Regions from separate parts of the Homo sapiens genome. Here region 2 is linked to region 1. A link means that fine-mapping ties the variant in region 1 to the expression of a gene that starts in the linked region. Tissue or cell type: whole blood. Region 1 holds a variant in brackets; the other region holds the start of a gene. All regions are shown on one strand. Distances are from middle to middle.

Region 1 (2,680 bases):
GTTGATATTTACCTTGGCCAGGCCTCCCATCTCCCCGGGCCAGCCTCGTGTAAACATGCTGTTCCTTCTCTCAGCTCTGCTAGCACTGAGGTGGCCTTTTGCAACCAATTCTAGGAATTTGGAAGTCTGAAGGCGTAGGTTCAGGGACTGGCCCTCCAGGGAGCCCTGGGTGCCAGGGGCCCTGGGACCTGCTGTGCTGGCCTTGGGCTCTCTCCCTGGGGGCTGACACCAAGGACTGCAGGGAATGAATGGGCCTGGGCCCATGGGGGTGTCGGCCAGGGTGGCTCTTGCTGGGTCCCTCAGTTCTCCTCACAGCCACGTTGGGGCCTCCTGCTCCCCAGGTTCACTGCGAGGCTCAGACTCGGAGGACACGCATTGAGGGACTGTGGCAGGATCTGGCTGTCTCCACTGTCTTTGCTCCAGGCCACCTCCACCCTGGCTGGTGGGGAGGGCTTGCTCTTGAGCCAGCTCTCTAGTGTGAGTTGGGAGTGTGGGCAGCTGGACTACAGTTAGAGGGAACATGGAGCAGGTGCCCAGGGTGCAGCCTCCCAAGGCAGCACGTGCCCATGCCAGAATTCCTGCCCTCAGGGAGCTTGCCTTCCAGAGGGCAGGTGGACCACAAGGAGAACAAGCTGGCTTGGGGTGGGGGTGAGTGCTGCAGAAGCCAGGATGAGCAGAGGCTGGCTGGGTCAGGGACGGTCCCCCGAGGTGGACATGCAGGAGGTGAGCAGAGGCACATTCCCCAGTGCAAATCCCAGCCCTCCCCTGTTGGTTCCACCAGGTGGTTCACACACTAGTGACGCCTTGGCAAGTCTGAGATTTGGTTTCCTTGTACAGAAATGGGGTGACAGTCCCTCAGAAACAAGGGAGTGGTTCTGCAGGTGGGAGCTGCCATGACTGCTGCGGTTTTGAAGCATCTGTGTGCCCCCCACCGGGCAGTGGGACATCTCGGCTGAGCCTCTCCCCTTCTCCATGCAGATCTGGGACATGAGCGATGATGAGACCATCTGAGATGGCCCCGCTGTGGGGCTGACTTCTCCCCGGCCGCCTGCTGAGGAGCTCTCCATCGCCAGAGCAGGACTGCTGACCCCAGGC[C/T]TGGTGATTCTGGGCCCCTCCTCCATACCCCGAGGTCTGGGATTCCCCCCTCTGCTGCCCAGGAGTGGCCAGTGTTCGGCGTTGCTCGGGATTCAAGATACCACCAGTTCAGAGCTAAATAATAACCTTGGCCTTGGCCTTGCTATTGACCTGGGACTTGGTCCTCCATGCAGTTTTTATTTCTTGTCACAGTGACTGATAGCCATCCCCCAGGATCCTTTCCCCTTGGCCCTGAGGGGGTGACCCAACACAGACCAAATGGGGAAATGAGCAACCAGCTCCTGCCCAGAGCCACTGCGGGAGGTGGCACCCTCATCCCCGGAATGTGCTGCCCACCGCACCGCAGGCTCCTCCTGTGGGGGCCCTGGGCATGGGTGAGGGTGGGACCCCGTGAGCGCACTGCACCCTGGCCCTGGTGGAGCGGGAGGAGGAGGAGAGCCGAGCTGGGTACGAGACTAAAGGGCCCACATGACCCAGTGACGCCAGATTTCCACCAAGGACTGAGTGAGCTGCTCAGACATGGCTTTCTGCCTCCCAGCCTGTCCTCCACTGTGGGCATAGCATCTGTGCCTGCCTGCCTGCTTGAGGGAGAGGAGTTTCTGCTGCTGCCTTGAGCTGGGGGGAAGAGCCCAGGGGCAGATCCTGGCAGCTGCCTGGATGGGGCTCCTCCCTGCCCTTATGAGCAGGCCAGGCCCAGAAAGGCCGAGCCTGGGCTGCCTTCCTGCCCCAGCCGAGGGAGGGGTCAGACGGCTCTACCATGGGTAACTCAGGCAAGAGCTGGTTTTCCTCTTTATTCTGGGTGTGTGCAGCTGTGAGGCCCCAACCCAGGAGAGGCCATGGCCTAGGTACCTGTGACCACCCTGCCCCCGTGTAGAGGGCATCGTCTTTCCTGCTATTTTATTCTTTCAGCTTTTGTCTTAGGCCCAGAATCAAAGTGAAAATTGAGTCGAGCTGACCCTTACAACAGTAGGATTTAGTAGGGTAGATTTCAAATGAGGCTTCGCTTCTCCCAAAGTAGCCAGTCCAAGTTCCAGTGGCTGTCGTTCAGCTCATGGGAGCTTCATGGGGACACAGCCGGCACAGGTGCAGGGCCCGAGTCCGCCCACCCAGCCTGGCGCTGAAACTGCACACGTACACTATGTGGTTTAAGAGCACTTTATTATTGTTCTTAAGGCTACTTTTAAGTACAAAAAAAGATGGCCTGCCAAACCTTTTTTTTTCTTCTTCCAGGAAAAACAGGCCACAGAGAATGGTATATTACAGATTTACACACATGAAGAGAAGGTCAGAGCGCACTGCAGGCAGCGCGGCTCTGGGAAGAACTTCACGGAGCCCCTTCTTAGAGCAGGGAGGGGGCTTTCTCAGTGAAATGTTTGGTTTTCTGCTGCCTCCTCTGCCCCAGGCCCCCCTCCAGGGTACTGCCTATCCCAGATAGGTCAGTGCACCAGGGACCCGGCCGCCAGCACCGCCGACCCCTCCCAGAGTGACGCCCTTGTTCACTGACAAAGAGACCTGTCCCAGGAGTGTCCTCCACCGAGCCGGTCAGCTGTGGGTGGTTTTCCTGTTACGACGCTCAGTAGCCTGT
Region 2 (2,680 bases), 280 kb before region 1:
GATCAGTTAGGGTGGGGCAGAAACAAATCACAATGGTGGAATGTCATCAGTTAAGGCTATTTTCACTTCTGCGGATCTTCAGTTGCTGCAAGCCATCTGGATGTATACGTGCAGGTCACTGGGGATATGATGGCTTAGCTTGGGCTCAGAGACTGACACACACAACCCCTACTGAGAATAGGTTGGCCTCAAGATAAAACATTCTCTAATCTACTATCTGATCAAGCCACCCCTTCATCCCACTTCCCATATTCGGTTGTTTCCAGCCTTGTTTACCTGCCTTTGGGGAGGGTGGGGGGTGGGGGAACCCTCTTTTTCCCTAACCATTGAAACATCTGCGGATGTTTTGGTCAGAGTGATCTCACTATTGCAATAGTCTCCCTCTGCTATTGCACGGTTCCTTCTCTCCCACCTCTCTCACTTCTTGCAGTAATCCTTTCTTTTTTTTTTTTTTTGAGACGGAGTCTCGCTCTGTCGCCCAGGCTGGAGTGCAGTGGTGGGATCTCGGCTCACTGCAAGCTCCGCCTCCCGGGTTCACGCCATTCTCCTGCCTCAGCCTCCCAAGTAGCTGGGACTACAGGCGCCCGCCACCACGCCCGGCTAATTTTTTTGTATTTTTAGTAGAGACGGGGTTTCACCGTTTTAGCCGGGATGGTCTCGATCTCCTGACCTCGTGATCCGCCCGCCTCGGCCTCCCAAAGTGCTGTGATTACAGGCGTGAGCCACCGCGCCGGGCCTGCAGTAATCCTTTCTAATAAGTATCCTTATTAGTCTGGATTTGTTTTCTTATTTGCCAGAATCAAACAAACTTCAGATTACGTTCCTGGCCCAAAAGCCCTTTAACTTTCAGCAAGCCACCTAACTTTTCTTAGATTCTGTTCTTTCATATATAACTTGGGGATATGTTTCAGGACTCTTGTGAGGATTAGAGATGTAAAACCCTGAAAACATGGTGGCTAGTTAATTAATAGCAGTCATCGCTCTTGTTGTTATGAGTCTAGAGTGGTATATCAGAGTTAATTTGTGAAAGGCCTTACAGGCCAGACAGAGAAACTTGTCATAATCACTGCTGTATCTTCAACACCTGTCCAGTGCTTTGCACGCGCAGAGTATCTAACCAAGTATTGAGAGGGAATAACTTTATCTCACTGACAGTGAGGAGCTGTGAGAATGATGGCTGGTTTAGAAAAGGCAGGTTGGTCACTGTCGACGTTCACTGGCCTTTTCCTACTAAAATTCTCATCTCCTGGCTCTCCACACCTGCCACCCTGATGGCCCCTGTGCTGCGTTTGATGCCGCCTCTCCTGGAGAATGACCATGGTGATCATTCCTGTCATCCTCTGAAATCAAAAGAGAGAACGTGGGCACTTTCTTAAAAGCCTGAAGGGAATGTAGACATTCCGACATCTGGTAAGGGAGACGCTCTCCATCGCTTCCCCCGGGGGCGTCACCGCCCCCTGATGCCCCGCCCTCCTCACGACTCAAGTTCCTCCCACTTAGCTCGGTGCTAGGGGCGCATTTCCCCGGCATGCCTCTGCTCCTTTGCGCACGCGCGCCGCTTCCCAGTGGCAAGCGCGGGCAGGACCGCGTTGCGTCATCGGGGCGCGCGCCTCAGAGAGAGCTGTGGTTGCCGGAAGTTGAGCGGCGGTAAGTGAGCCGCGGCGGGCGAGGGTGTAGTGGGGTCTTGCTGGGCCGGTTTTGGAGGCCTGGAGTCAAGGGGCGAGCTCGCCAGGGAGGGCGAGGGTCACAGCAAGTCTCAGGATCCTCCTCTGCCAGTTTCTGGGTGGTCCTTCCTCCTCCAGGGACTCACTGATTCCGGCTGGCGCCCTTCGTCTGTAGCCGCGTCCCCTCAGACTGGTTCAGTCCGGGGTCTTCTGACTTGGAAGCTCGTGCTGATTTCCTAAGTCAGCCCCTCCTGTCCTCTTGGTAGGCAGTGCTCAGAATCTTCAGTGTTGGAACACGGGAGATGGGACATTTGGATTCCCAGCCTGGCTGTGTCTGGATTTGCTGTCTCTGGCACGTTCCTTCCCCATCTAAGCTGCTTTTCCATCTGCAAAATGGGAATGATAATCCGCCATTTGTTTAAGTGAGGAGGTTAAATAAGTTTACTTTCTGAGAAAGAAGATTCTCGATTCCTTGGTTACAGGGTTAGAAACTAATGCACAATAAGAATCAATCCGGTAAGGTAAATATAGGTGTTAGAACATTTGTCAGAAATAGAGTCAAACTTCTAATTTTATAAGTACAGTACTAACGTACATGATGTTGGAGAAGTACAAGCCAAACCGTGTGTGTGTGCACGTGCGTGCAGTTTCCTGATTTTTAAACACTGGCGACTGATGCCATTTTTTAAAAATTGGCAAGTAATTCTGGCGTTTAAAAACATTGGCAACTCAGTTTTTACAAAACCCTGTTCAACTGTAACCAGTCATATCTGTGGCTGTCAGTTTGGGACCTCTGGATCCCAGACTCCCTTTTTCATTGACTACTTAGATTTTTTTCTCTGACACCTCTGCCCACTGGCCAGATTTCTTCAGTGACAGAAAGCTTTCTACTTCTGGTTGCTCCTGTTTGGTCCTCCCCCAGTTCTGACTCTTAGGTTGAGCTGAAAGCAGCTACTCGGTAATCTTAGCTCACTGTTCCTCCTTCAGGCTCTTGGAATCACCCCTGCATTTAATTG

The links. PIP is the estimated chance that this variant, and not a neighbour inherited with it, causes the effect.
Region 2: it holds the start of ATG7, and the variant in region 1 is fine-mapped to the expression of ATG7 in whole blood (TOPMed, PIP above 0.99).

What each region holds. Positions count from the first base shown.
Region 1 is chr3:11,553,833-11,556,512 of GRCh38, forward strand. It overlaps ATG7 (autophagy related 7), which reads left to right. Exons shown (of 21, transcript NM_001349232.2): 21 at 979-2,680. The coding sequence ends at 1,011. It overlaps VGLL4 (vestigial like family member 4), which reads right to left. Exons shown (of 5, transcript NM_001128219.3): 5 at 2,237-2,680. Among named protein-coding and RNA genes, the nearest start is that of VGLL4, 89 kb to the right of the region's middle. The variant C/T (reference allele first, on the strand shown) is at 1,096.
Region 2 is chr3:11,270,784-11,273,463 of GRCh38, forward strand. It overlaps ATG7 (autophagy related 7), which reads left to right and starts at 1,614. Exons shown (of 21, transcript NM_001349232.2): 1 at 1,614-1,647. RefSeq lists enhancers at 1,212-1,261, 1,218-1,809, 1,532-1,661, 1,810-2,399.